3 separate regions of the Homo sapiens genome follow, and all the other regions are linked to region 1. Evidence: fine-mapped expression QTL. A gene starts in region 1. Each other region holds a variant in brackets. All regions are shown on one strand. Distances are from middle to middle.

Region 1 (8,158 bases):
TTTATCACCTTTAGAATCCACTGCGTAGACCCTGTAGAAACTGCCCCTCTGGGGAAGGCCCACAGCCTGAGGGTGCTTTCCTGGGAAGGTGGGCAGTGGAGGACTGTGATGTCTAACCCTTCTGGACCCTGGCCAACCTTTGCCCTGCCCCTCAGGGCTGGTCTTTCTCCTGATCACTGGCCAGAGCCCCAGAGACCCCAAAGAGAAGACAGCCAGTGAGACGGCTTTGACCTGTGGAAGAGCAAAGTACCTGCAGGACTGGCCCTCAGCAGTCTGTCCCGTGGAACAATGGTCTTCCAGGTCTGACGGTCTACCCAGCCCCCTGGCATCCTCCTCCTCTCTCTGCGGTGGTGCTGTGATCACAGCTGGCCCTTTAAGTCAGCTCTGTGTCCTCGGGCTCCCCCAGAGGCCCTCCCTGCTTGGAAACCCCTAATTAAGGTGCAGGGAGAAGTAAAAACAAGCAGCCAGAGACAGGCCCTGCCTGGGAGGCTGCCCAGAGAGGAGGAATGGCTGGACAGGCAGGGAGTGAGCAGCTGAGGGACCATCACCAAGGGTCAGTGCTGTGCCCCCCAGGCCACCGGCACTCTTAGGACAGGTAGCTCTAGACAGAAAAGTGACCAATGTGGGTCCCAGGAACACTCCCCTCAACTCGATAAGCGTCCGGACTAGACCTTCCCATCTCCCCCCAGCTTCTCTGGATCCCCAGGGTGCAAGATCTGAATTCTGGGAGCTCAGCCCCTCCTCTCTCAGGACACTGCTGCCCAGCCTGTGGACAGCCTTAGCTGTGACTGCAGCATGGAGTTTCAAGGGGAAAGGACTGGCTCCAACTGAGCAATGGCTTCTCCCTAGCAGGCGCCATATCCCTTGGGACCTTTCCCTCATCAGAGGTGGGGCCTGTTTGATGGCAAAAGTCCCATCCCTCTAGTAACATTGCCCCGCACCCGCTGTGCCTAATGAGCTGCTCTGGCCCCCATTAGGAAGCCGGATGATGCCTAGGAGAACTGGACATGAAGAACAGATGTGAGAATGCTTCCCCAAGACTCCGTGGTGCAGGACATTGGGGGCTGCCATTCAGCTTGGGCTGAGGGCACCTCCATCTGTCTGTGGGGGTCTCCCTGCCTGAGTTACTCAGCAGTCTGAGTAATTACTGCCTGACAAGAAGGCGGGCACAGTGCACCCCCACAGTACACCACAACACCCGCCTTCACTCGCCCCCACTCCCTGGCTGGACTCCAAGGCAGCACCCAACCCTCCTGAGGCCTGAAATAACTCTGCTTCTCACACTCACGCCCAGCCCCAGCCAACTTTTCCTAAGACGCTAGAGTTTGTGGGCTAGGGGGTCATGGGGAGGCGGCTTGGAGAGGTGGAAGGAGGATTATCCCACATTCAGGCCCTGAGTCAGGCCCACACTTTATCGCTGATCTGTGATGTGACGTTGAGCAAGTTGTTCATCCTCTCTGGGCCTCGGTGTACTTACAGAGGACCTCTCAGGCTCCCAGTGTCAGGGCTAAGGCAGGCAGTGGGGTGAGCACTGCCTTGTAGCTGGTGGCTAAGAGAAGGAATACCTCACCTTCTGTTCTACGCCAAGAGGGACCAATCTTTTTTTGTTCGTGTTTAACTGCTCCTGTGGCCATGGGCAGTGTGCCCAGAGTAGCAGCCATCCATCTTTTTTTATCTTTAAACATTTTTTTGAAATAGAGATGGAGTCTCACACTGTTGCCCAGGCTGGTCTCAAACTCCTGGCCTCAAGCAATCCTCCCACCCCAGCCTTCCAAAGTGGTGAGATTATAGGTGTGAGCCCATGGTCCTCAGGAAGGACCAATCTTATCTATCTTCAGAACAAGGTTACTTCTCACCTTCAAGCATCTACGTGGAATGCCCTTCCCCCTTCTTAGTGTGGTGAACTCAGCCTTCAAGACCTAACTCCAAGGGCACCTCTTCTGTGACTGTTTCCTGATTATCTGGTAGCCCCTGGCAGAGCTAGCAGAGCCCTTTCGCAGTCTTTGTGACTTCTGTCAGTCACACTCTAAGATGGTTTGCGGGTCTTTCTTTTCCCACGACACCTGAAGCTTCTGGAAGTCCAAGCCCAGAGCCTTAGCTCAAATCTGAAGCTTCAGTGCCACCAAATGCAGGTGTGAGTGAATACGTCAGACTGGCCTTCTTTTTTTTTGTTTGTTTTGTTTTTTTGAGACAGTCTCGCTCTGTCACCCAGGCAGGAGTGCAGTGGTGTGATCTCGGCTCATTGCAATCTCCATCTCCTGTGTTCAAGAGATTCTCCCGTAGCCTCCCAAGTAGCTGGGATTACAGGCGCACACCACCACGCTCGGCTAATTTTTGTATTTTTAATAGAGACGGGGTTTCACCTTGGCCAGGCTGGTCTCGAACTCCTGACCTCAAGTGATCTGCTCAGCCTCCCAAAGTGCTGGGATTACAGGTGTGAGCCACCGCGCCCAGCCTGGCCCTTTTTTTTTTTTTTTTTTTGAGACAGAGTCTCACTCTGTCACCCAGGCTGGAGTGCAGTGGCGCGATCTCGGCTCACTGCAACCTCCGCCTCCCGGGTTCAAGCGAGTCTCCTGCCTCAGCCTCCCGAGTACCTGGGATTACAGGCGCCTGCCACCATGCCCGGCTAATTTTTGTATTTTTATTAGAGACCGGGTTTCACCATGCGGGCCAGGGTGGTCTCGAACTCCTGACCTCGTGATCTGCCTGCCTCCGCCTCCCAAAGTGCTAGGATTACAGGCGTGAGCCACCGCGCCCGGCCCTGACCTTCTTTTTGACCTTCCTATCATGTCACCTTTTCCTACAAGGAGGGATTCAGTTGGATTTCTGCTTGGATGTCACCTGCTCAGAGCAGCTTTCCTTGACTGCCACCTCTACCCCCGTGTCAGCTCCAGAACAATACTCTGCTTGTTTTTCTTCGAAGCACAATCTTCCCATCTTCTCTGGACTTTCCTCATTTGGCCCCTATTAAAATGGAAACTCCTTGAGGACAGGGCAAAGACAAGTCTTTTTCGTCTGCTGAATTTTCAGGAACAGTAGTGCCCCACACATGCTGAGCCTTCGGTGAATGTGTGTTGAATGACAGCCTTGGTCCATCCGCTTTTTCTTCTCTCCGAATCCCTCTGATCCCAGGCCAGCAGGGGGTGCCGCCTCCACCCAGGATCTCGCCTGGCCCGAACCTTCTCTTCCCTCAGCTCAACAGGCCCCTGCGGGACCCGCTTTCCAAGCGGCGCCTCCTCCATTTTCCGCGAACCCCCCGGCGGGGTCTGTGTGGACCAAGGGAGATCAGAGACCCCCCGCCGCCACCCCACCCAGGCGGAGACGGCCCACCCGAACCCGCACGGGTCCTTCCTTCTCCCTGGAATTTGCAGCTGGCCCTTTCCGAATGCTTGCTCCCCTCCTCTCCCCACGAAAGAACAGTGTCCTGGGACTCGGGGTGCGGGGCAGCCGGGTTCGCTGGAGCTGTTCAGTGCGGGGAAGAGCCGTCGAGACTGGGAGAAGGGGCGCTGGCCAGGGAGGAGACGGGGCAGGGAGCGGACTCGCGATCCGTACTCTGGGCGGCGGTCCTCGCGTCCCAGCCGCGTCTCCCGATGACCTCCAGCCGCGAAGGGCGAGCGGGCGGGGGCTGGGCTGCGGGTTCGGGCTCCAGGAGGCCTGCGGGGCCGGGGAGGGGCGTGGAGTGGTCCGAGGACCGGCTTGGGGACTGGGGGCAGGTGCCTGGACGGACGCGGGCCGAGCATCTTCCCCGGGGGCGGGCGCAGTGAAAACACCTTGGGAGGCGGCGCCGCGCGGCTGAGCGCTGCTGCCTTGGGAATAGGACGGCGCTCGGCACTGCGAGCTGAGAGCACTTTCATAAATTTTGTATGGGAGGCGCTCCGTGAGCGGGGGCGGGGAGCGGAGCGAGAGGGAGGGAGCTAGAGAGCAAGGGAGGGAGGGAGGAGGAGAGGAGGGGGAAGCCGGGGGGAGGAAGGGAGGCGCCCCGCTCCGCCGATCGCTCGGTCCTGCAAACGCGCGCCGGGCGCTTTCCCCGGAGCTCGGCGGTGCGTGCGAGCGCCCTTTTGCTGCAGCCGCGGCGGCGGTGGTCCGAGGGGGCGGAGAGGAGGGGGCTGCGGCCGGCCGGCCAGGGGGCGGCGTCCCCCCTCAAAACCGCCTGCGAAGTGCTCCGGGTGGCAGAAGCAGGCCGCCGGCTCCGCGGAGCAAGCCGCTCGCCCCGGGGCTGAGCAAGCGCGCGGGGCTGCCGGGCAGCACCACGGTTGCTTGCGGGCGCCGGTGCCCTCGGCGCGGGGCTGGAGCTCACCATGCCCCTGCGGGGCCGGGCCACCGGGCACGAGCGGATCCCCGGCTTGCCCCCGCCTCGACGCGCTCGGATTAGCTGCAGCTGGCGCCCAGGGATTTGAATCTGGACCCCGGGAGGGAGTGCGCCTAGGCCGACCTCGGAGCGGCGGCCCCGTGGCCAACATGCTTCGCAAAGGTGAGTTGGAGCCGCAGGGGCAAGTTGAAGTTGAATGCGCTCCGGAAAGAGCCGCGAGCCCGGGCGCCGCCCGGCGCCGGGGCTCCCGGTCTGGGAAGTAGCCCCCGGCGGGCTGGTGGGTTTTGCCGGGCGCACCCGCCGAGGGGCTGCTGCTGGGGCTCAGCTCCCGTCAGCGGCCAGTTGTGAGACACGGGGTTTTCTCCATGGATCGAGTGGCCAGGCCTAGAGATCCGGCCCGGAGGGGTCAGTCGGAGACCAGAGTGAGCGGCCGGTGGTGGAAGGGGAGCCGGCCTCCTGGGACCTTTGCTTTGCTGGGATAAAGTTTTGCACTTGCAGCCTCCATTCCCTGCGCGGGCACACGCCCTTGCTTCTGCCGCTTTGTGGAGGCCGAGTCCGCACGGCGCCCCCGTGCAGCCAGCGGTCAGTGACCGCGCGGCCCGGGCGCTCCCCGCGCGCCCTAGCTCCCCAGACGGGGCCCGGACGCGGACGTCTTCTCTGCAGTTCTGCTCTGATCGCTAGGGATGGGCTCTGGGCACCCAGCGGCTGAGGGTGGGGAGCGGCCAGCGCCTGATGTCCAGTTCCTCAAACTTTCATTATGCTGGGAGCGGAGGGACGCGAAAGCCGTGCCGCCAGTGTGCGCGACCGGTGCACAGCTCAACTTGAGGACAGCTGGCTTCGCGACCACCGTAGCTAGACGCCCCAGCAGCCCGGCCCGGTACGGAGCGCGGCAAAGTTGGTGCGGGCACCGGGGAAGTCCCGCCGCGCCCCCACGTGGTTGCCACGCGGGGCGCCGTCCCCCGGGCCCTGGGAGGGCAGGTGATCACGCCGGGAGCCCACGGGCCCCGCCACCAGCTGTTCCAGCCTCTGCGTCTGCCTCTCCCCTCCCAGGCCCGAGCAGGCTGTGGCGCCCCGCCGGGATCCCCCCCGCGCCTGGCCCGGCCAGGAGGCTGAGAAGCCGCGGCGCCTGCGGCTGGCTGCCCCGGCCCTGCGGGAGCGGCTGAGGCGGGAGCTCAGGTAGCCGAGGGGCCTGATCCCTGCGCTCCACGCTCCAGCCTTAATCCGCCCCTGTTTCCATGGCAACAGACCGAGGTGTCGTAAGCACAGGATTCTGACCTCACAGCAGGATGGGGAAGGAGAAAACGCGCACGGGGAGGGGGTGGAGGGGGGGGAGGTTGGGGAGGTGGGGGGAAGCGAAGCCCTAAGATGGGCGGAGAGAAGCAGATGTGGAGGTGATGGCGAAGACCCAGATATAAGCAGGTCAGGCAGGTGGGTGGAGGAACCACGCCTTTGGTGGGGCAGTGAAGGCCGTGTGGTGGTCCTAGCTTGGGCCGACCGAGGAAGCTGAGTTGCCCCGTCGTCCTGGAATAGTAACAAACTTGTGTGTGACTTGTGCCCTCCACGTGGGTCGGTGCAGTTCAGGGGGAAACGCCGGCTGCCTTCGCTGTGGTATGGAAGAGTTTCTGGGGCTAGTTGGAGAAACCGCTTCGCAGACACACCCCAGGTTCTCCTTTTCCCTGCAGAAAGGGACAAAAAGTCCTTTCAGCAACCGAGCAGTGCTGGCCAAAGTGTCTTTGCACAGAGAAGGTGCTTTTTACAGAGCTGAGCAGAAGCCCGGGTCTGAGAAACTTGGGCCTGGAGCGTGCAAACTTGCCCCGGTCGAGAAGGCTTCCCAGACAGCTCTGAGAGGCCGCCATGTCTGGGCTGCAGGTCTGTGATAGGGATAATGGAGAGGAACTGACATCTCATTTCCCTTTTGGTCTTTTGTCTTTTGGCAGTTTATAGTTAAAAATGAGCCACCAAGCAGCCCACACACTTTATTTATATGGTTTAGGTGCCCAAGGAGGCTCCAGCAGCCTCCAAGAGCCTTTCTCTCCCACCCTGGCTAGCCAGAGGCCCAGCTGTGGATGAGCACAGTGCACTGTGGGGGCCGCTCCCCGGGGGGAGGCTCCTTACCCTGCACAAGAGGCGGCCACCGGAGGCTTAGCAGTCACGTGTGTTTGCCACTCGGGCTGTTTCTTCCTTCCTGCACAGCCTGGTTGGCTGAAGAGGTTCCACCGATAGGTTTCCACCTGGATTGGCCCAAAGGAAGCAGAGCAGAGAAGCCCTTCACTGGGCTGGGCTCAGCCTGGGTGACCTGGAGACCGCCCCTAGGGCATCGTGTGGACGGGTGACTTGTGTTGGTTCTTTCCTGGGCAGGCAGTTTTCTCTCTTGGCCCCAGATCCTGATCTTTTGGATTAGTTTCTTCTGCACACCTGTATAGGACACTCAGATTCTCTGTATGGATTCTAGGTAGGCGCCCAAAGCCAAAAGCATGCCTGAGGCTAATGCCCAGGGAGGTGGCCATTGAAGTGTCTGCTTCTAGAATTCTTCCCAAAGTTTCCAAGCGAAAATGATACAGGAGGCCAGGTGTGGTGGCTCATGGCTGTAATCCCAGCATTTTGGGAGGCCGAGGTAGGAGGATCACTTGAGACCAGGAGTTCGAGGCCAGCTCGGGCAACAGAGTGGGACTTCGTCTCTACAAAAAAAAATTTTTTTTGAGACAGAGTTTCACTCTGTTGCCCAGGCTGGAGTGCAGTGGTGCAATCTCAGCTAACTGCAACCTCTGCCTCCCAGATTCAAGCAATTCTCCTGCCTCAGCCTCCCAAGTAGCTAGGACTACAGGTGCACGCCACCATGCTTGACTCATTTTTTGTATTTTTAGTAGAGATGGGGTTTTGCCATGTTGGCCAGGCTGGTCTCAAACTCCTGGTCTCAAGTGATCTGCCCACCTCGGCCTCCTGAAGTGCTGGGATTACAGGTGTGAGTCACTGCACCCGGCCAAAATTTTAAAAAATTTGCAGTGGCATACACTGGTGGTCCCAGCTACTTGAGAGGCTGAGGTGGGAGGATCACTTGAGTCTGAGAGGTGGGGGCTGCAGTGGGCCGAGATTGTACAACTGCCCTCCAGCCTGGGGGACAAAGCCAGACCCTATTTAAAAAAAAAAAAAAAAAAAAAAAGACCGGGCACAGTGGCTCACACCTGTAATCCCAGCACTTTGGGAGGCCGAGTTGGGAGGATCACCGGAGGTCAGGAGTTCGAGACCAGCCTGGCCAACATGGTGAAACCCCGTCTCTACTAAAAATACAAAAATTAGCCGGGCGTGCTGGTTCATGCCTGTAATCCCAGCTCCTTGGGAAGTTGAGGCAGGAGAATTGCTTGAACCCGGGAGGCGGAGGTTACAGTGAGCCAAGATCGCACCACTGCACTCCAGCCCAGGAGAAGATGCGAGACTCTGTCTCAAAAAAAAAAAAAAAAAAAAAGGTATAGGATGTGTTTAAATAGTTCTTGCTGTTTTCTTGCCTATAATATGCAGAGCCCTATGTGGGGTCCTGGACCTGAGGGAGTGTAATAATTTAATTATGATTCTGAAAAGGGTTTGAAAGATGAAGAAAGGGTAGCCCTCCCTAGATCCTGTGGGAAGGAGGGAAGAGAAAAAACCCCTCATCTTTCTGCAAAGGGCAGGGCTCATGGTCTTGATAATGGGGTGCCCTATGCAGTGAGGGGTGCAGTGGTATGAAGCCCCAGAGGAGGAGGAAGGCGGAGCACACCTTGGGCCATAAGGATCATCTCTCTGATTCCTGGTTGTCCTAGTAAAGCTGTCCCCTGGCATGACATTTTGGGAGGACTGAGGGGGACTGCCTTGCAT
Region 2 (8,176 bases), 100 kb after region 1:
TACAAAAAATACAAAAAATGGCTGGGTGTGGTGGTTCATGCCTGTAATCCCAGCACGTTGGGAGGCTGAGGCGGGTGGATCACGTGGTCAGGAGTTCAAGACCAGCCAGGCCAAGATGGTGAAACCCCCTCTCTACTAAAAATACAAAAAATTAGCTGGGCGCAGTGGCAGGCGCCTGTAGTCCCAGCTACTCAGGAGGCTGAGGAAGGAGAATCGTTTGAACCCGGAGGGTGGAGGTTGCAGTGAGCCAAGATCGCGCCACTGCACTCCAGCCTCGGCGACAGAGTGAAACTCTGTCTCAAAAAAAAACTAAAAATAAAAATAAATAAAAAATAGGTACATTCTGGGCTGGGTGTGGTGGCTGACACCTGTAATCCCAATGCTTTGGGAGGCCAAGGAGGAAGGACACTTTAGACCAGGAGTTCAAGAACAGCCTGGGTAACATAGCGAGACCCATTTCTACAAAAAAAAAATTTTTTTTTTTTTGAGACAGAGTCTTGCTCTTGTTGCCCAGGCTGGAGTGCAATGGCGTGATCTCAGCTCACTGCAACCTCTGCCTCCTGGGTTCAAGCGATTCTCCTGCCTCAGCCTCCAGAGTAGCTGGGATTACAGGCACATGCCACAACGCCTGGCTAATTTTTTTCGCATTTTTGGTAGAGACGGGGTTTCACCACGTTGGCCAGGCTGATCTTGAACTCCTGACCTCAGGTGATCTGCCCACCTCAGCCTCCCAAAGTGCTGGGATTACAGGCATGAGCCACCGCGACTGGCCAATTTGTTTTTTTCTTTTTTTCTTTTTCTTTTTTTTTTTTTTTGAGACTGAGTCTCTCTGTGTTGCCCAGGCTGGAGTGCAATGGCGCAATCCCGGATTCGAGCAATTCTCCAGCCTCAGCCTCCCGAGTAGCTGGAACTACAGGCGCCTGCCATCACGCCCGGCTAATTTTTTGTATTTTTAGTAGAGACAGGGTTTCACCATGTTAGCCAGGATGGTCTCGATCTCCTGACCTCGTGATCTGCCTGCCTCAGCCTCCTGAAGTGCTGGGATTACAGGCGTGAGCCACTGCGCCCGGCCTTTTTTTTTTTTTTTTAGACGGAGTCTCGCCGTGTTGCCCAGGCTGGAGTGCAGTGGTATGATATTGGCTCACTGCAACCTCTGCCTCCTGGGTTCAAGTGATTCTCCTGCCTTAGCCTCCCATGTTGGCCTTGGTTTTAAGCCCAGGAGTTTAAGACCAGCCTGGGCAGCCTAACTGGCTGTAGAGCCACCATGCCTGGCTCTACAAAAAAAATTGTTTTAATTAGCTGGGCAGGCTGGGCATGGTGGCTCACTCCTGTAATTCAAGTACTTTAGGAAGCTGAGGCAGGAAGATCACTTGAACCCATAAGTTTGTGACCAGCCTGAGCAACATAGATGGCCCAGCTACAAAAACAAAACAAAACAAAACAAAACAACACACAGGGCTGGGTGCGGTGGCTCACGCCTGTAATTCAAGTACTTTAGGAGGCTGAGGCAGGGGGATCACTTGAGTCCATAAGTTTGTGACCAGCCTGAACAACATAGACGGTCCAGCTACAAAAAAAAAAAAGAAAATAGGCTGGGCACAATGGCTCACGCCTGTAATCCCAGCACTTTGGGAGGCTGAGGCAGGTGGATCACGTGAGGTCAGGAGTTCGAGACCAGCCTGATCAACATGGAGAAACCCTGTCTCTACTAAAAATAAAAATAAAAATAAAAAAAAATCAGCCGGGTGTGGTGGCGCATGCCTGTCATCCCAGCTACTCGGGAGGCTGAGGCAGGAGAATCGCTTGAACCTGGGAGGCAGAGGTTGCGGTGAGCCAAGATCGTGTCATTGCATTCCAGCCTGGTCAACAAAAAGCGAAACTCTGTCTCAAAAAAATAATAATAATAAAATAAAATAAAAAATAAATTAGCCAGGCACGGTGGCATGTGCCTGTGGTCCCAGGTACCCAGGAGGCTGAGGTGGGAGAATCACTTGAGCCCAGGGGTTCAAGGGTGCAGTGAACTGTGATTGTGCCGCTGTACTCCAGCCTGAGTGACTGAGTTAGACCCTGTCTCAAAAAAAAAAAAAAAAAAAAATTAGCTGGGTCTGGTGACAGTTTTAGGCCTCTTCTCAAGAGCTTTTGTGAATCCCGGGACTGTCCTTGGAATTTATATTTTCTTTTCACTGTTTTTGCTCATTTGAAAAATTGTCTCAAAATTTTCATGTTAATTTCAATCAAATATGTCTACTTTTCTTATTTGGAATATTTTCATGGATTTTAATATTTTGTTTCCAATTTTAAATGGTCTAATAGCAAATTGGCTTAAAAACTGAACGGGCAACCACTAATTCATATATCAATTTATCCTAGGTGATACTACAACATTTTACAATGTGTCTTAGTTTTTTTCTTTTTATTTGGAAATACTTACAGGTTCACAGGAAACTGAAAAAAAGAAAGCAGCAGGGAGGTCCTGGAGCCCTTTCACCCAGTTTCCCTCAATGGTAATATTTTGCGTAACTCCCTGTTAATTCACCATAAAAAAAATATATTTTGGGCCGGGTGCGGTGGCTCAGGCCTGTAATCCTAGCATGTTGGGAGGCTGAGGCGGGCAGATCACGAGGTCAAGAGATGGAGACCATCCTGGCTAACACGGTGAAACCCCGTCTCTACTAAAAATACAAAAATTAGAGCCAGGCGTGATGGCGGGCGCCTGTAGTCCCAGCTCATCGGGAGGCTGAGGCAGGAGAATGGCTTGAACCCTGGAGGCAGAGCTTGCAGTGAGCCGAGATCGAGCCACTGCACTCCAGCCTGGGCGACAGAGTAAGTCTCCATCAAAAAAAAAAAAAAAACTGGGCCTTTTCATCTCAGAAGTTCCTTCTCTCTCACTAGAGAGAGAGCTGTTTACCTTTCTCCTTTCTCTTTCTTTTGCCTATTAAACCTCTGCTCCAAATATATATATATATATATATATATATATATATATATATATATATATATATATATTTTTCAGTTAGTGATATTAATTTTACCTATTTGGGTAAAGTTTCCACATATTCAAACAACTTTGATAAGGAAAAAAATAAAGCTTCCAACAGGGACAAGGAAGGAATAGTCCTTTTCTTTTTTTCTTGGATATTTATGAATGAAATTTTAGGATTTTAAATGTCATTATATCATTGAACTGAGAAGTGGAAAATGAGAAGTGTTTGTCCAGATGCAGGATTATTGGCCAGAGTCCCCCTAACAAGTTTGGGGAGATGAAGGAGGTGTTCACAAACCTCCTGGAATTCAATGCAGGGCCCCTGGAATGTGCAGGTTTCCAGAGAGAGCTTTCTTTCTCTTTCTGTTTTTTTTTTTTGAGAGGTAGTTTCACTCTGTCGCCCAGGCTGGTGTGCAGTGGCCGGATCTCGGCTCACTGCAAGCTCTGCCTCCTGGGTTCACACCATTCTCCTGACTCAGCCTCCCGAGTAGCTGGGACTACAGGCGCCCGCCACCACACCTGGCTAATTTTTTTGTATTTTTAGTAGAGACGGGGTTTCACCGTGTTAGCCAGGATGGTCTCATCTCCTGACCTCGTGATCCACCTGCCTCGGCCTCCCAAAGTGCTGGGATTACAGCTGTGAGCCACCGCGCCCGGCCAGAGAGAGCTTTCTTTTTCTTTTTCTTTTCTTTTTCTTTTTTTTTTGAGACACAGTCTTGCTCTGTTGCCCAGGCTGGAGTGCAGTGCCACGATCTCGGCTCACTGCAACCTCCACCTCCTGGGTCCAAGTGAGTCTCCTGCCTCAGCCTCCTGAGTAGCTGGGACTACAGGCGCCCACTACCACACCCAGCTAATTTTTTGTGTTTTTAGTAGAGACGGGGTTTCACCATGTTAGCCAGGATGGTCTCGATCTCCTGACCTCGTGATCCGCCCCTCGGCCTCCCAAAATGCTGAGATTACAGGCGTGAGCCACTGCGCCCAGCCAAAAGCAGATGGAGTCTCACTCTGTTGCCCAGGCTGGAGTACAATGGCACCATCTCGGCTCACTGCAGCCTCCACCTCCCGGGTTCAACTGATTCTCCTGCCTCAGCCTCCCAAGTAGCTGGGATTACAGGCGCCCATCACCACGCTTGGCTAATTTTTGTATTTTTAGTAGAGGCAGGCTTTCACCATGTTGGCCAGGCTGGTCTCAAACTCCTGACCTCAGGTGATCCACCCGCCTCGACCTCCTAAAGTGCTGGGATTACAGGCATGAGCCACCGCGCCTGGCCTTTTTTTTTTTCTTTTAATTAATAAATAAATTAATTTATATTTTTGGGACAGGGTCTTCCTCTGTTGCCCAGGCTGGTCTCAAACTCCTGGGCTCAAGCGAACCTCCTGCCTCAGCCTCCTGAGTAGCTGGGCCCACAGGTGCAGGCCAGCACGGCCTTTTCATCAGATCCTGAAAAAGGCTAAGAACTGGCCCGGACTCCTTCGTTTCACCCTCAGCGGCTCCTCCGCAACGCCGCCTCCCACCTGGCATGTAGGTGGCACTCCGCCTGGGGATGACGAGTCCTTG[G/A]CAGAACCGGCTTGTGGAACAGCCAAGGCTGCGGCGGAAATAGTCGCTCTTGACCAGTTTGTCCTTTTGACCAATTTGGTTTCGACCCAATCGTCTACTCCTCCACTCTGTCACACAAGGAAAACGGGGCGGGGGTGGTGGGGGAAAGGATGGAGCGGCTGGTTCCAGAAGACGCCAGCAACGGAATTTTAAACCCAGGCAATCTGCTTCCTTGTCATCCTAAAAGCTGTGGCAACTGGCAGGCTCCAAGCTCCCTGGGAACACTGGCTTCCAAATGCTAGTTTGGAGACAAGGGGAGCCTGTGATTGCGATTTTACCGATTTGCAACGAAACATTAATGTATTGAGTTTTTTGCTAAGCCAAATTTATTCCATCTAAAGATAATCCTTTATTCTGAAATCATGTCCTTATTTTTTTTTTTCCTTTGGTTTGGGGAGGGAGAAGGGTGTTCTAAAAAGATCTTTCTTTGGCCGGGCGCAGTGGCTCACGCCTGTAATCCCAGCACTTTGGGAGGCCAAGGTGGGTGGATCACCTGAGGTTGGGCGTTCGAGACCAGCCTGGCCAACATGGTGAAGCCCCGTCTCTACGAAAAATACAAAAAAAATTAGCCAGGCCTAGTGGCGGGTGCCTGTAATCCCAGCTACTCGGGAGGCTGAGGCAGAAGAATTGCTTGAACCCGGGAGGCAGAGCTTGCAGTGAGCCAAGATTGCACCATTGCACTCCAGCCTGGGTGACAGAGTGAGACTCTGTCTAAAAAATAAAAGTAAAAATGATCTTTCTTTTCTGAACCAACGGGACTGGTACATAGCAGCTTCTGTGTCTTGGGGTCTCTCATTGGCCAAACAAAATGCTGGCAACCCAAGGCAAGCCCTCCAAATTCTTTCTGCAACCCTACTGCTCTGTGCATGCAAAAACTCTGGGAAGGGTGGTTGTGGAGGAGTCTGGCAGTGCGGCCCTTGCCTTATGCTGTTCCCAGCCCCAACCCAACCCCACTTGGGCCAACGGCTCTGCTCACCTGTGCCAGCTCCGTGTGCATGGCCTCCTTCCTCCTTATCACCTGCCTTCCATTATTTGCAGATAATTATCTGCAATAACCAGCCAGTTACCCTTAAAGACAATTATATTCTCTCTCTTTTTTTTTGATACAGAGTCTCGCTCTATTGTCCAGGCTGGAGTGCAATGGCATGATCCTGGCTCACCACAACCTCTGCCTCCAGGTTCAAGAGATTCTCTACCTCAGCTTCCCGAGTAGCTGGGATTACAGGCTCCTGCCACTGCGCCCAGCTAATTTTGTATTTTCAGTACAGACAGGGTTTCACCATGCTGGCCAGGCTGGCCTTGAACTCCCAACCTCAGGTGATCCTCCCGCCTTGGCCTCCCAAAGTGCTGGGATTACAGGCGTGAGCCACCACGCCTGGCCAACAATTATATTCTTCTATCAGCAAACATTGATGTTCTTTTCTTACATCTTTTAATGAAGCTGACATTAGGGAGATGTTTCATTTTCATAAAGTCAAACGGCTGCCTTTTAAGAGGGTTTGGGTTCCATGTTAATGTTTCAAAGCCTTAACTAGGGGATGGGTGTTTGGTGGAAGTAGAAAAGGAATTAGGAGGACTTCTTCCCTGTTGGTCCAAGAGGAGCTGCTTTGAGAGGTCAGATGCCCAGGGGACCCGGTACAGCGTGCCAGCCCCCCTCCCCAAGCTAATGAGCTCTAAAAGTATCAATGCGATGAGCTCAGCCCTGCAAGTGAAATCATTCAGCAGTGCTGCTCTCATAGCTGTGCCTGCCTCTCACTGACCACGGCTTAAATCCTCCCTCCCTGCAGCCACCTCTGGGGACCTCCAGAGCTAATTGCTTCAGGGAGCTTCATTGAAATGAAGCACCCTCAGCTGCTCATAAAAGCTTTATCGTGGGCGAAGGCTGACCCAGACGGAACAGTAGCATCTATCTCCCAGGTCAGGGGGCCAAAGGCGCCGGCCGAGGCAGGATCTAGGCTTACAGAAATAACTCGGTTAGGTATTAAAAAGCCGGGGGCGGGGGAAGAGGCTGTAATTTTATCTCTTCCCGAGTGCCCCTCTCTTTACAATTTGGGCCTTACCTGGTGACTATGTGTACTTGAGTCACTCATTGTGGGCCAAACAACCTCAAGATGCAATTTCTTTCAAAGGTAGAAAAAAAATAAATAAACGAAAGTCTGCTCCTGCTGGGTTTATAAAGAGCTGTTTTCTTCCTGAGCTCTGTGGCATGGTGGCTGTAATCCGGAATTTCTTTTTAATCATAGCAGGAGTCCCAATTAGCGTGTTGGGTAATCTTTCAAGTAGAACTGGGAGCTCCGTGACCATAGAGAGCCGAGGAAATGTTACATGTGAAGAAGCTCTGGAGGGACAGGGCCGAGAAGGCAGTGCTGTCAGGCCGGTGCACACACGTATGTCAATCACGTATGTCAATCACGTATGTCAATCAACGTGCATTTGCAGGCTGGATCCCAGTCCCAAGAGCAGGCGTGTGCACCCTGGGTTTCTTGACCCCCAGTTCTATCATACCTGGACCAGAAGGAACGTATGGAGTGTACGTGGTGTTCCCCTTGGTGCAGAAACCCCAACGCTGCCCCGTCCGTGAGCCAGCATGCCAACATACAGGCCATGCACGCATACCTACCCCTTCCCGCTAAGAACACAGGGCAGGAACCAAGCTGCATGTGTGAGGCTGTGGCGCAGAGTTTGGGGCGCCCCCGGCTCTCCATGAGATGGGCCGCAGCCCCGGACTCAGCTGGCACCGGGGCCCAGCTCCGATCCGGTACGCCGGTGACCTACTTTCCTTTGTTGTTGTTTTTGGAAGTGCTGATGTCAATGCAGAATTCAGCAGAGAAGCTGAGTGAGAAAAAAAAAGAGAAGGGGGTAGAGAGAGAAGAAGGGAAAGAACCAAGGGCAGGGAGAGCGCCAGATAGGGATGGTGGTGGCAGGTTCTCTGCAACAGGGCTAACCTCCTACTGCCACTGTCCCTACAGGGCCCGCCTACTGCCACTGTCCCTACAGGGCCTGCCTACTGCCACTGTCCCTACAGGGCTAACCTCCTACTGCCACTGTCCCTACAGGGCTAACCGCCTACTGCCACTGTCCCTACAGGGCCTGCCTACTGCCACTGTCCCTACAGGGCCCGCCTACTGCCACTGTCCCTACAGGGCCTGCCTACTGCCACTGTCCCTACAGGGCTAACTGCCTACTGCCACTGTCCCTACAGGGCTGACTGCCTACTGCCACTGTCTCTACAGGGCCCGCCTACTGCCACTGTCCCTACAGGGCCTGCCTACTGCCACTGTCCCTACAGGGCTAACCTCCTACTGCCACTGTCCCTACAGGGCTGACTGCCTACTGCCACTGTCCCTACAGGGCCCGCCTACTGCCACTGTCCCTACAGGGCCCGCCTACTGCCACTGTCCCTACAGGGCCTGCCTACTGCCACTGTCCCTACAGGGCTAACCTCCTACTGCCACTGTCCCTACAGGGCTAACCGCCTACTGCCACTGTCCCTACAGGGCCTGCCCAGTGGGTCTGGGAGCAGCCTGGCCCCGTGGCTTTGGGCTGAGTAAACAGGGAAGAGGCTTCTTCCCCCTTTCGATGCACAAGGGGCAGAA
Region 3 (8,176 bases), 140 kb after region 1:
CTTTTCTGGAAGGTATTTACTATGTTAAAAAAGCATGCCTGTAATAATTCAGGTTGTTTCAGGGACACCTCCCGACCTAAGTCATCTCAGGCACACTAGCTCTGATGTGCTAATAGGAACAGGAGAAACGGGTGGCTTCGATTTAGAAAGTGCTTTGGTTTTAAAGTACTTTTATATACATTATTTCACTGTTAAGCACATCCCAAATGGACAAGATTAGATAACATCAGATGAGCTCTTAAATAATTATCAGGCTGAGAAACTGTATACAAACAATACCAAAAAGAAACAAACTAAAAAATATTAAACAGCAAAAAGAGGGCCAGTGTTGGGCAAGGTGTGGTGGCTCACACCTGTAATCCCAGCATTTCGGGTGGCTGAAGCGGGCAGATCATGAGGTCAGGAGTTCGAGACCAGCCTGGCCAACATGGTAAAACCCCGTCTCTACTAAAAATACAAAAACTAGCCGGGCATCGTGGCGGGTGCCTGTCATCCCAGCTACTCAGGAGGCTGGGGCAGGAGAATCACTTGAACCCGGGAGGCGGAGACTGCGGTGAGCTGAGATCGCGCCACTGCACTCCAGCCTAGGAAACAGGGCAAGACTCCATCTCAAAAAAAAAAAAATGTGTGGGGTCAGTGTTATAGAATGAGAACCATTAAAAGTTATAGAAGTTATAATAAAATATGTGGCTGACCTTGTCTTTTAATTCCCCAAGATAAGCAGCATTTTGTCCAAGGATAGCTTCAGCAGACTCCTGGAAACAAGTCACCCACTGATTCTCTTGAAAATCTGCAATATTTACCTAAAAAACACAATTCTACATTATTTCAGCAAAGAAATAATAAAAAGACACACTGAGAAGATGGGGAGAGGTTAATGTTCTTTTTCCACTTATTAAAATAATTTCCAGAGAGGGCCAGGTGCAGTGGGCTCATGCCTGTCATCCCAGCACTTTGGGAGGCCAAGGCGGGTGGAACACTTGAGGCCAGGAGTTTGAAACCAGCCTGGCCAACATGGTGAAACTCCGTCTCTACGAAAAATACAAAAATTAGCCAGGCATGGTGGCGGGTGCCTGTAATCCCAGCTACTCAGGAGGCTGAGGCGGGAGAATCACTTGAACCCGGGAGGCGGAGGTTGCAGCGAGCTGAGATCGAGCCACTGCACTCCAGCCTGGGTGACAGAGAGAGGCCCATCAGATTAGTTCCTGTCGAGGTGCAGCTGGCTTTGGATGAAGGGTTTTGAGTGAATCGGGGGAGTTCTCTGCATTTTCAATTGCCCACTCTGTAGTTCCTAGGAGGAGTTCCATGAGACGGCTCTGTCACTGCTGGGCACCCAGACAACTGAAGAGCCTGCCCGTGAGCCTCTGTCAGTCACCAAATTGACCTGGCAAAGGAAATGAGCAATCAAATGTCTCCCACTGGGCTGTGGTGTAACATTAAACAGGGCAAAGTCAAGGAAGAAAGCAGATCTCAAAGAATCCACTTGCTGAAGTAAAAGCCTTTGTAGAAACACGAGTGGTTTTTCTTTAAGGCATCATTTTGACGATTTTACATCTTCATTTTGCATGGGTACAAGGCTTTTAATAGAGAGAATGTTATGACGAAAAATAAGGTGACGAAACCAGTTAAAAGTGAAAAGCGCTCTCAATACACAGCAACGGTATCACACCCTGGGCTCACACTTCCTTTAACCCACGCTATCCTTCTAAGAAGCAAAGAGCATCTCATCACACAGGGCAAGAACTACAATGACGCACACGTGTGATAAATATCAAATCAAACAAGTGTGCGGGAGATTGCGCTGTGGAGTTTAACAGAAAGGCTGATGTTTCCACAAACTAAAACAAATTTTCTTCATCTTAGTTCAATGAAAAGTTTATAGTTTACAAAAAATGAGCCTAAACGTAGAACTGTCCTGCTAAGCTAACATTTCATTTTATTTATCATTTATTAATTTAATTTATTTATTTATTGAGATGGAGTCTTGCTCTGTCACCCAGGCTGGAATGCAGTGGCGCGATCGTGGCTCACTGCAAACTCCACCTCCCGGGTTCATGCCATTCCCCGGCCTCAGCCTCCCTAGTAGCTGGGACTGCAGGTGCCCGCCACCACGCCTGGCTAATTTTTTTGTACTTTTAGTAGAGACAGGGTTTCACTGTGTTAGCCAAGATGATCTCGATCTCCTGACCTCGTGATCCGCCTGCCTCAGCCTCCCAAAGTGCTGGGATTACAGGCGTGAGCCACCGTGCCCGGCCTATTTATTTATTTTTTAAAGACAGGGTCTGACTCTGTCACCCAGGCTGGAGTGCAGTGCCACGATCATGGCTCACTGCAGCCTTGACCTCTCGGGCTCAAGCGATCCTCCTACCTCAGCCTCATGAGTAGCTGGGACAAGTGCATACCACCACAGCCAGCTAATTTTACTTTTTGTAGAGACAGGGTCTTGCCATGTTGCCCAGGCTGATATCGAACTCCCAGCCTCAAGCAATCATCCTGCCTCAGCCTTCCAAAGTGCTGGGGTTACAGGCACAAGTCACTGCGCCTGGCCAATATGAACATTTTTCAGGCTTCTGATATATTACTGCCAAATCATCCTTTGGAAAAATGTGAAACTGTTTTCTTTTTCTCTTTTCTTGAGATGGAGTTTTGCTCTTGTCGCCCGGGCTGGAGTGCAGTGGTGTGATCTCGGCTCACTGCAACCTCTGCCTCCCGGGTTCAAGCGATTCTCCTGCCTCAGCCTCCCGAGTAGCTGGGACTACAGGCACCCGCCACCACGCCCGGCTAATTTTTGTATTTTTAGTAGAGACAGGGTTTCACCATGTTGGCCAGGCTGGTCTCAAACTCCTGATCTCAGGTGACGCACCCGCCTCGGCCTCCCAAAGTGCTGGGATTACAAAAGTGAGCCACTGTGCCCGGCCTTAAACTGTTTTCTTAAACTGCTATTATCGCCTAGTTCTATCATTGAAAACAAAACAAAACAAAATAAAAATCTTAAGGCCGGGTGCAGTGGCTCAGGCTTGTAATGCCAGCACTTTGGAAGGCTGAGGTGGGAGGATGACATGAGGCCAGGAACTTGAGACCAACCTGAACAGCAGAGCGAGACCCTGTCTCTACAATAAAATAATTTTAAAAATTAGCTGGGTGTGGTGGTGCACAGCTGTAGTTGCAGCTACTTGGGAGGCCAAGGTGGAAGGACTGCTTAAGCCCGGGAGGTTGGGGCCACCATGAGCTGTGATGATACCATTGCACTCTATTCTGGGCAACAGAGTGAGACCCCTGTTTCTTAAAAAAAAAAAAAAATTTTTTTAAACCCAACTTTACAACTTTTTTAAAAAGGTTTTTAAAACAGAAAGAAACAATTCTTAAAATGCAAAAAAGCAACAATCTCACATCAGCACACCGTCACATTCCTCTGAAGTCAGCTATACTAAAGCTAGAGAATAGATTATCCACATGAAAGTGACTAAATACGGGCATTGGCTGTGTAAGTACAATTAGTGCTGTCTATAAATGCCGTTTTCAAATTAATTTATCTTCATAGCAGTTA[G/TCAG]CAGGCAAGTGTCACTGACGCTATGGCTGTATGACGTGCATGAAAGACTGAATCAGCTGGGGTATCTCAACACCACTTTCTGGCATGAAAAAGCGGATGGATAAGCTCTTCCACACCTACTCATCTGCGGGCTTCCTACCAGGAATGCTTTGTCTCTACTGTTGTGACCACAGTGCCTGGCACACGGGAGGGCCTCCGTGAACACAACCGTGGTTCTCATCTACCGAGGCTACTTACTGACAGGATCATGCGGTACTTGAAATTGGGAAATTCGGTGTCGCACTTCTCACAGCGGTACAATCCATTCTGTTGATCAATCACTTTCTTATTGCAGTCCTGAGTCGGGCAGGCTTGGTACATGCAGTTCTCTTTGCGAAGATACACCACTGTGGCCACAGAACTAAAGTAGTCCGGCTTCGGGAGAAAAGAACAGCATGAGGCACGGAGTCGCGAGCCCGCCCAGGATCGGACCGAGAGGCAGCTCAAAGCCTGCCCTTACGTTTAGGTGGTAAGTGTTTCTACATCCTCAAGATTACACATGATCACAGGGAATCATTCATTCTGTAGTTTTAGAAATCACATGTGCCGAGTACAAAACCCATGAAGGTAATAAGCCAAGTTCTAATAAGCCAAGTTCTGAGGCAGATAATTCCTTCACAATAAAAGAGTTAATCCTAAATTACACTAAGTTAATTAAAAGTGAAATTGTTTTCCTGTTTGCTTGAACACTGTATGAAAGACAAAGATTTGTTCCTCCCGATCCTCTGACCCTCCAAAGGCCACAGATCTAGGAAATACAGAATGCGGACCACAAACACCCAGTGCAGCAACGATCAACCATCCCTCCCGCGCTCAAAACACGGCAGTCGTGTCTAGGCCTAGATTCACCTTTTCCTTGTTTAGGCCAGGGATCAGCAAGCTGCTTCTGTAAAAAGCCAAACAGTAAATATTTCAGGCCTTAGCAGCCATTTGGTCACAGTCTCTGCTGCAACTACAGACACACCTCACTTTATTGTGCTTTGCTTTACTGCACTTGACAGATACGGCATTTTTTACAGATTGAAGACTTGTGGCACCCCTGGGTCAAGTAAATGCACTATTTTCCCAATAGCAGGTGCTCACTTTATGTCTCTGTGTCACATAAAGACAGTAATTCTTGCAAGATTTCAAACTTTTTCATTATATATGTATTTTTTGAGACAGAGTCTCGCTCTGTCGCCCAGGCTGGGGTGCAGTGAGTGGTGTAATCTCTGATCACTGCAGCCTCCACCTCCCAGGTTCAAGTGATTCTCCTGCCTCAGCCACCCAAGTAGCTGGGACTACAGGCGTGCACTACCACGCCTGGCTAATTTTTGTATTTTTTAGTAGAGATGGGGTTTTGCCATGTTGGGTAGGCTGGTCTCGAACTCCAAACCTCAAGTGATCCACCCACCTTGGCCTCCCGAAGTGCTAGGATTATAGGAGTAAGCCACCATGCCTGGCCCTTTTTCATTATTATCATATCTGTTATGGTGATTTTTTTTTTTTTTCTGAGACGGAGTCTCGCTCTGTCACCAGGCTGGAGTGCAGTGGCATGATCTCAGCTCACTGAAATCTCCGCCTCCCAGGGTCAAACGATTCTCCTGCCTCAGCCTCCCGAGAAGCTGGGACTACAGGCATGCACCACTACGCCCAGCTAATTTTTGTATTTTTAGTAGAGACGGGGTTTTAACCACGTTGGTCAGGATGGTCTCGATCTCCTGACTTCAGGTGATCCGCCTGCCTCAGCCTCCCAAAGTGCTGGGATTACAGGAATGAGCCACCGCGCCTGGCCTACAGTGATCTTTAACGTCACTATTGTAGTTGTTCTGGGGTGCCACCAACTACACCCATATAAGATGGGGAACTTATATTGATGAATGTTGTATGTATGCTGACTGATCCTCCAATCAAGTATTCCTGTCTCTCTTCTTTGAATACACAAATAAGAAAGCAAACAGCCTTACTGCTGATATGGAGTAAGCTGTAGTGGTCTAGATAGAATATCAAGCAAGCCACAACATTCTCTTAAGCCAAAGCCTAACCCAGAGCAAGGCCTCACCTTTCTTCAATTCTGTGAAGGCTGAGAGAGGTCAGGAAGCTGCAGAAGAGGCCAGGTGCAGTGGCTCACACCTGTAATCCCAGCACTTTGGGAGGCAGAGGCAACATGATTGCCTAAGCCAAGGAGTTCGATACCAGCCAGGCAACATAGTGAGACCTAGTCTCTACAAAAATCTGTCAGGGCACGGTGGTGTGCACCTGTAGTCCCAGCTACTCCAGAGGCTGAGGTGAGCTGTGATTGCACCACTGCACTCCAGCCTGGGTGACAGAGTGAGACTCTGTCTCAAAAAAAAAAAAAAAAAAAGCTGCAGAAGAAAAGATGGCAGCCAGCAGATGTTGGTTCATGAGGTTTAAGGAAATAAGCCGTCACCATAACAAAAGTGCAAGGTGAAGCAGCAAGTGCTGATGGAGAAGCTGCAGCAAGTTATCCAGAAGATCTAGCTAGGACCACCAATGAAGGTGGCTGCACTCAACAACAGATTTTCAACGTAGACAGAATAGCCTTCTGGAAGAAGATGCCATCAAGAACATTCGTCCTAGAGAGTAGAAATCAATGCCTGGCTTCAAAGCTTCAAAGGAAAGGCTGACTCTCCTGTTAGGCGCGAATGCAGCTGGGGACTATAAGGTGAAGCCAGTGCTCATTGACCATGTCAAAAATCTTAGGGCTCATAAGAACTATGCTAAATCTACTTTGCCTCTGCTTTATAAATAGAATATCAAAGCTTGGATGACAGCATATCTATTTATAGTGTAGTTTATTGAATATTTTAAGCCCACTGTTGAGACCTACTACTCAGAAAAAGAGACTCCTTTAAAAATATGACTGCTCATTGACAATGCACCTGTTCACCCGAGAGCTCAATGGAGACACACAGTACGAGGAGATTAATATATTGACAATGCACCTGTTCACACAAGAGCTCAATGGAGACACACAGTACAAGGAGATTAATATATTGACAATGCACCTGTTCACCCAAGGGCTCAATGGAGACACACAGTACAAGGAGATTAATATATTGACAATGCACCTGTTCACCCGAGGGCTCAATGGAGATGCACAGAACAAGGAGATTAATATTGTTTTCATGCTTGATAACAACATCTATTCTGCAGCCCATGCAAATCAAGGAGTAATTTTGACTTTTTAAGTCTAAGAGACATATTTCATGAGGCGATAGTTGCCACAGTGATTCCTCTGATGGATCTGGGGAAAGTAAATTGAAAACCTGAAAAGGATTCACCATTCTAGATGCTATTAAGAACAGTTGGCTGGGCACAGTCGCTCACACCTGTAACTCCTGGCACTTTGAGAGGTTGAGGCAGGGAGATCCCTTGAGCCCAGGAGTTTGAGAGCAGCCTGGGCAACATGACACAACTCAGTCTCTACAAAAAATACAATTAGCCAGGTGTGGCAGCACCTGTAGTCCCAGCTTGGGAGCCTGGGGAGGTTGAGACTGCAGTGAGCTGTGATCAAGCCAGTGCACTCCAGCCTGAGTGACAGAATGAGACCCTGTCTCAAGTTAAAAAAAAAAGGAACATTCATGATTCATGGGAGGAGATCAAAATCCCAACATCAACGGGAGTTTGGAACAAGTTGATTCCAACCCTCAAGGTAGACACTGAGGCTTCAAGACTTTGGTGGAGGAGGGATCTGTAGATGTGACGAAAATAACGAGAGAACTAGAATTACAAATGGAGCCTGAAAATGGGCCTGAACTGCTGTAATCTCACGATCAAACTTGAACGGATAAGGAGCTGCTCCTTACGATGGGCAAGGAAAGTGCTTTCTTGAGATGAAATCTCTTGTGGTGAGAACGCTGTGAGCATTGTTGAAATGACGACAAAGGATTTAGAATTTGCATAAGCTTGGCTGATAAAGCAGTGACAGGACCTGAGAGGGAGAGACTCCAGTTTGAAAAAGTTCTCCTGTGGGTAAAATGCTGTCAAACAGCATCGCCGGCTATGGAGAAAGCTTTTGTGAAAGGAAGAGTCAACCAATGTGGCACACTTCACTGCTGTCTTATTTTAAGAAACTGCCAAAGACACGCCGATGTTCAGCAACCATCGCCGTGACTGCTCAGCCATCAACCCTGAAACAAACCCCCACCAGCAAGAAGATTACGACTCAGATGATTGTCAGCATTTTTCAGCAATAAAGTTTTTGTTTCAAGAGAAGGGGTCTTCCATGTTGCTCAGTCGAACTCCTGGGCTCATGTAATCCACCTGCCTCAGCCTCCTGGGTAGCTGGGATTACAGAGAACCGAAAGAGTGGGTGTCCCATGACAGGACAACGAGGATCTGTCCAGTGTTTAATTCTTGAGATGTTCTATAAGAGCACTTAAGAGCTGCTGTTGACAATGATGGATAAGGGTATACAGTGAAATGAGACAGGAGGAATGAAACCTACACTGTATATGATGAAAATAAAAGAGCAGGCGTAAAGGAGAAATAAATGATCTAAATACTAAACTGCTGGCAGAACACAGGCTTAGATCAAGATGGGAGGAGGGTCATTAAATACAAACACTGAAAGGAAAAAGCTGCAAC

Which allele goes with the higher level. Alleles are on the strand shown, and positions count from the first base shown. SD is a standard deviation of normalised expression in the study named.
For the expression in caudate of the gene that starts at base 3,990 in region 1, allele A in region 2 goes with a higher level than allele G (small effect, 0.36 SD a copy in GTEx).
As copies of G replace TCAG in region 3, the expression in atrial appendage of the gene that starts at base 3,990 in region 1 goes down (moderate effect, 0.44 SD a copy in GTEx).

Evidence for each region.
Region 2: its variant is fine-mapped to the expression of RTN4RL1 in caudate (GTEx, PIP above 0.99). The same link has a PIP of 0.9 or more in cerebellar hemisphere and cerebellum.
Region 3: its variant is fine-mapped to the expression of RTN4RL1 in atrial appendage (GTEx, PIP above 0.99).

Annotation. Positions count from the first base shown.
Region 1 is chr17:2,021,166-2,029,323 of GRCh38, reverse strand. It overlaps RTN4RL1 (reticulon 4 receptor like 1), which reads left to right and starts at 3,990. Exons shown (of 2, transcript NM_178568.4): 1 at 3,990-4,471. The coding sequence starts at 4,459. LOC105371486 (a long non-coding RNA gene) reads left to right here and starts at 5,642. Exons shown (of 4, transcript XR_001752746.2): 1 at 5,642-5,728. RefSeq lists enhancers at 2,929-3,429, 4,598-5,143 and a silencer at 6,362-6,541.
Region 2 is chr17:1,917,614-1,925,789 of GRCh38, reverse strand. No RefSeq gene overlaps it. Among named protein-coding and RNA genes, the nearest start is that of RPA1, 92 kb to the right of the region's middle. RefSeq lists a silencer at 3,495-3,677. The variant G/A (reference allele first, on the strand shown) is at 4,542.
Region 3 is chr17:1,884,460-1,892,635 of GRCh38, reverse strand. RPA1 (replication protein A1) reads right to left here. Exons shown (of 17, transcript NM_002945.5): 14 at 3,785-3,961; 15 at 696-803. Among named protein-coding and RNA genes, the nearest start is that of RPA1, 59 kb to the right of the region's middle. The variant G/TCAG (reference allele first, on the strand shown) is at 3,548.